Linked DNA regions of Homo sapiens: region 1 is linked to region 2. Evidence: fine-mapped expression QTL. A gene starts in region 2. The other region holds a variant in brackets. All regions are shown on one strand. Distances are from middle to middle.

Region 1 (2,917 bases), 140 kb before region 2:
CAAATATTTTGAGACATTGTAAACAGTATTTTTAAATTTTAATTTCTATAATATAGAAATAAAGTAGATTTGTGTATATTAATTGTGTATTGTGCAACACTGTTAAACTCATGTATTAGTTATAGCAGCTGTTTGTAGATTGCATTCTTTCTACATGAATGATCATGTCGCCTGCAAATAAGAACAGTTTTATTTCTCCTTTTCCAATATGGATAACCTTATTTCTCTGTCTTGCCTGATGGCCCCAGATAAAACCTCCCATATGTTGTTGAATAGGGATGGGGAGAGCCAACATCCTTGTTTTGTTCCTGGTACTAGGGAAAAAGCATTTAATACGATGTTAGTTTTAGGTATTTTGTACACAGCCTCTATCAGGTGGAGGGAGTTCCTTTCTATTCCTAGTTTTCTAAGAGGTTTTTTTTTTAAAATCAGGAATGTGTTTAGATTTTGTCAAATGGCTTTTCTGCATCCATTGAGATGATCACACGTCGCTGTTGTTGTAATCTGTTACTATGGCAAATTACATTGTTGATTCTTGAGTGTTCAACCAACCCAGTACTATTCAACTTGCGTAAATCCCACTTGGTCATAATGTATTGTCCTTTTTATATATTGTTGGTTATTTGGTAAAATTTTGTTTCAAATTGTTGCATCAATTTTCATGAAGGATATTGGTCTATAGTTTTCTTACAGTGTCTTTGTCTAGTTTTGGTTTCAGGGCGATGCTGGCTTTAATGAGAATGAGTGGGGGACTATTTTCCTCTCCACAATATTGTAGAAGAATTAATGTAGAATTGGCATTATTTCTACATTAAATGTTTAGTACAGTCCTATCTTGAATGCTCTTCTATATATTCTGTGGGCTCTGAAACTTGGGGCAACACACGCCTGCTGGGGTTTTGCCTGTCTTTCTCTTTGAAGGCAGAATACTGTTTCCATCCTTCAGCCCTGGAAGGATAAAGGAAATGTGGAAATGGTTAAAGATGAGGGACAGGAGTGGGGGCATGATATCTCAATGCATCCTTTAAAAACAAAAGGTGAAATTCATGTAACATACAATTAACCGTTTTAAAGTGTTTCATTCAGTGGCATTTATTACATTCACAATGCTATACAACCACTACCACTAGCTAGTTGTAAACATTTTCATTATCCCAGAAGAAAATCTCATACTCGCTACGCAGCCACTCCCTATTCTCTCCTCCCGCTAGCTCCTGGCAACTCCTAATCTGCTTTCTGACTCTGTGGCTTTACCCATTCTGGATATTTCGTATCACTGGAATCACACAATATGTGACCTTTTGTGTC[T/A]GGCTTTTTTCACTTAGCATGATATTTTAAAATTTCACATATAGTGTAGCATGTATCAGTACTTCATTCCTTTCTATGGCTGAGTAATAATCCATGGTACTTAGATACCACGTTTTGCTTGTTCATTCATCACTTGATGAACATTTGCATTGTGTCCACCTTTTGGCTATCAAGAAGGGTGCTGCTATGAACACTCATGTGTAAGTATGTGTTTCAGCACCTGTTTGCAGCTCTTTGGGGTACACATCTAGGAGTGGAATTGCTGGATTGCATGGCAATTCTGTTTAGCTTTTTGAGGAATCACCAAATTGTCTTCCACAGTGGATGCACCATTTGATATTCCCATCAGTAATGTGTGAGGGTTCCAATTTCTCCATATTCTTGCCAACACATTTTTTAAATTAGAAATTTTTTTATTGTGACTATCCTAGTGGGTGTTTTTTTGTTGTTGTTTTTTGTTTTTTTTTTTAGGATAATAAGTCCTTTATTCTTTTCTTTTTCTTTCTTTTTTTTAAAATTTTTTTAGTATTTATTGATCATTCTTGGGTGTTTCTCGGAGAGGGGGATTTGGCAGGGTCATAGGACAATAGTGGAGGGAAGGTCAGCAGATAAACATGTGAACAAACGTCTCTGGTTTTCCTAGGCAGAGGACCCTGCCGCCTTCCGCAGTGTTTGTGTCCCTGGGTACTTGAGATTAGGGAGTGGTGCCTTCAAGCATCTGTTTAACAAAGCACATCTTGCACCACTCTTAATCCATTTAACCCTTAGTGGACACAGCACATGTTTCAGAGAGCACGGGGTTGGGGGTAAGGTTATAGATTAACAGCATCCCAAGGCAGAAGAATTTTTCTTAGTACAGAACAAAATGGAGTCTCCTATGTCTACTTCTTTCTACACAGACACAGTAACAATCTGATCTCTCCTTCTTTTCCCCACATTTCCCCCTTTTCTATTCGACAAAACCGCCATCGTCATCATGGCCCGTTCTCAATGAGCTGTTGGGTACACATCACAGACGGGGTGGCGGTGGGGCAGAGGCGCCCCCCACCTCCCAGACGGGGCGGCCGCCGGGCGGGGGCTGCCCCCTACCTCCCGGATGGGGCGGTTGCCGGGCGGAGGGGCTCCTCACTTCTCAGACGGGGCAGCCGGTCAGAGATGCTCCTCACCTCCCAGACGGGGTGGCGGCGGGGCAGAGACACTCCTCAGTTCCCAGACGGGGTTGCGGCCGGGCAGAGGCGCTCCTCACATCTCAGAAGGGGCAGCGGGGCAGAGGCGCTCCCCACATCCCAGACGATGGGCAGCCAGGCAGAGACGATCCTCACTTCCTAGACGGGATGGCGGCCGGGAAGAGGCGCTCCTCACTTCCCAGACTGGGCCGCCAGGCAGAGGGGCTCCTCACATCCCAGACGATGGGCGGCCAGGCAGAGACGCTCCTCACTTCCTAGACGGGCCGGCAGCCGGGCAGAGTCTGCAATCTCGGCACTTTGGGAGGCCAAGGCAGGCGGCTGGGAGGTGGAGGTTGTAGCGAGCTGAGATCACGCCACTGCACTCCAGCCTGGGCAGCATTGAGCACTGAGTGAGCAAGACTCCGTCTGCCATTCCAGCACCT
Region 2 (2,917 bases):
GGAAGCAAGTTTTGCTGGAGCATGGTTAGGAGTATAATAGGTTTACAAAGCATAAACGGCTTTGTAAACTAGCATGGAGTTGGGATTTTATTCTAAGTGCAAATGAAGAGCCATTCCAGGCTTTTAAACAGGGGAGTGACATGATTTGACTTTTATTTTTTATTTATTTATTTATTTATTTATTTTGAAACGGTGTGTCACTCTGTCGCCCAGGCTGGAGTGCAGTGGCAGGAACTCGGCTCACTGCAACCTCCACCTCCCAGGTTCAAGCAATTCTCCTGCCTCAGGCTCCCGAGCAGCTGGGGTTACAGGCGCTCGCCACCACACCTGGCTAATTTTTGTAGTTTTAGTAGAGACAGGGTTTCATCATGTTGGCCAGCCTGGTCTCAAGCTCCTGACCTCAGGTGCTCCGCCCGTCTCGGCCTCGCAAAGTGCTGATTACACTTTGGGTGGGTGAGCCACCGCGCCCGGGCTTTTTTTTTTTTTTTTTAAATCATGGAGTGAGGGACAGGGATGAGCAACATATATTAAGATATTAAGGAAGATATTAAGAGTGGGGGCAAGGAGGCCAGTTAGGAGGCCCTGGCCAGGTGAGAGATACACTGTGACCCAGAATCCTGGTAATGGAGATGTAGTGAACAGATTGAAGTATAGTTCAGAGGTAAAGAGTTGGATAGCTTATGCATGAAAGGAATAAAAACACCTAGAGCTTTGTCCTGATCAACTAGGTGTTGTGTAACTGCGATGAGCAAAATCGGGGGGAAGATGGGGAATCAAAGAGTTCTGCTTGAACCGTAATAATGGTTTTTACTCGTTGCCTGCTTACTATACGCCCGATGATTTACCGATTTTTTTCCCTGTTAAAATTCACAGAACTGCCAATAAGTGCTTTGCCTCAGTTTTGTTGATAAACTTAGGCTCAGACTTGGGAGGAGGGGAGGGGTGGGGGGTCTCACCACTAAGAAGCGGTGGAAGCCGAATCCGAACTTAAGTCGGTCTGTCATCACTGTAGCCTTTCCGAGACAGTTGTCTTATGGAGTTGCTTGGAGAACGTAAAATAAGAGGCCTAAGCAATGCGTCTGATGTACACCTGTCGTGGAATAACTGTTCCCGCTCATTCGGCCGCTGTACCTCTGCTCCCTCATTCGGAGCGTAGCTGGGTATGAATGAAATTCCGGGCTTGTAGCACAGAGAAAACTTCTCTCCCACAATTGGTTGGTGCTGGGGAGGAAGCTCCTGATTGGTGGAAAGTCCGAGGAAGTGGGCAAGCCGGAGGGATTTCGTGTACCTCAGGTGCCCTCACTCTGACCGGCCCCCTATCATTACGTAATTTTCTACGACTCGCGGTAGCTCAGGCAGAGCGGGTTCCTGCAGCGGCGCGACCCTCTGACGTCTCCGCTTCTAATTGGTCAAGAGCTGCGACTGCAGTTCTGAAGCCTAACTGGTTGCCCGTGCCGCCTCGGAGGTGAAGTGTACTGCGCTGATTGGCTTCCAGGCGCCGGCCGCGTGTGATGTCCCGGGCAACGATTGGCTCTCGCCTACCGGGGGCTTCTCTCACCGGGACTCGGGACTCCCGGGAAGTGGACCGGCAGAAGAGGGGGCTAGCTAGCTGTCTCTGCGGACCAAGGAGACCCCCGCGCCCCCCCGGTGTGAGGCGGCCTCACAGGGCCGGGTGGGCTGGCGAGCCGACGCGGCGGCGGAGGAGGCTGTGAGGAGTGTGTGGAACAGGACCCGGGACAGAGGAACCATGGCTCCGCAGAACCTGAGCACCTTTTGCCTGTTGCTGCTATACCTCATCGGGGCGGTGATTGCCGGGTGAGGAACAGACACTCGCAGACAACGGGGCCTGTGGGTCAGCCTTTGCTGGGGGGTGGGAGGGGGTGGGGGAAGTGGCATTGCCAGACTGACGGAGTGGAGAGGGGCATCGCTGTGGGTTGGCGGGGTGGCGGAGGAAGGGGTAGTATGGGCCAGGCTAGTGGGGTGAGAGGAGAACCGTGGGTGACACCAGTGAGAGGGCCTTAGGTCCAGAGAGGGTCTTAGGTAGAGCTAGATTTGCCCAGAGGAGTGGGAGTTGGATGCATTGCCAAACGGCATTTGGGGGATGAGGGAAAGAAGGTGGTTGCGAGCTGAAGCAGTGTCACGTAGAGCTGGGGAAGAAAGAGGGATGCCTGACTGTAAGGAAAGATAGTGACAGTGCCAGGCTGAGGTTGAGGGGATGGACGTTTGTTTGATCAAAGAGGTGAGTTGCTGTGCCCCGCTGAGGTGGAGAAGCGGACGATGCTCTATGCCAAGCCTTCGAAGAGCCATTCTGGGGCTGACATTAAAGTGGGTGGATGATGCCAGCCCGAGTTGGGACTGAACGAAATTGGATGCGGGATGGGAACAAGAAGATCTTTAGACAGCCCTTGTACTTCCCAGCTTCTTGAGCTATTTATTATCTTAAGTTGCTTCATCTTTAACATTCTGGCAGTGCTACTGTTAGGACATTTATGTGGCATAATCTTTTTAAAGAAGGAAAATCATCCTTTGAGAGTGTTATTTGACTTTTAGAAAAGTCAAAATCATTTGGAGCCAGTATAGGGAAAGGGGGGAAGAGTTAATTTGATTATATGGTTATTGCCTAAAGATAACATGAGACCATAAAATAAGGAAGTGGTTTTCTTGACCGAAGGTGGTTCTGAAAGAAAAGTGCCACAGATGTTTTGAATAATCCGAAAAGAAGTATATAGCCTCTTACTGTGATTACTTCAATATATAAGATTCATTACAAATTCTGGTGTTCTCTCTTTAGTCATTCTTTGTGTGTGTATGTGTCACATAAACCTTCATTTTTATACCTCTTTGCTCAGATACAAACCTAAATGTAGAGGAAAAATAAATCTTTTACTTTGAAAAATGTAACATGTAACTCTTTAAT

What was found. PIP is the estimated chance that this variant, and not a neighbour inherited with it, causes the effect.
Region 1: its variant is fine-mapped to the expression of DNAJB11 in tibial nerve (GTEx, PIP above 0.99). The same link has a PIP of 0.9 or more in sigmoid colon and sun-exposed skin.

What each region holds. Positions count from the first base shown.
Region 1 is chr3:186,433,039-186,435,955 of GRCh38, forward strand. No RefSeq gene overlaps it. Among named protein-coding and RNA genes, the nearest start is that of LINC02020, 5.8 kb to the right of the region's middle. The variant T/A (reference allele first, on the strand shown) is at 1,309.
Region 2 is chr3:186,569,151-186,572,067 of GRCh38, forward strand. DNAJB11 (DnaJ heat shock protein family (Hsp40) member B11) reads left to right here and starts at 1,570. Exons shown (of 10, transcript NM_016306.6): 1 at 1,570-1,815. The coding sequence starts at 1,748. It also overlaps a transcript of TBCCD1 not described here. RefSeq lists a silencer at 1,582-1,821.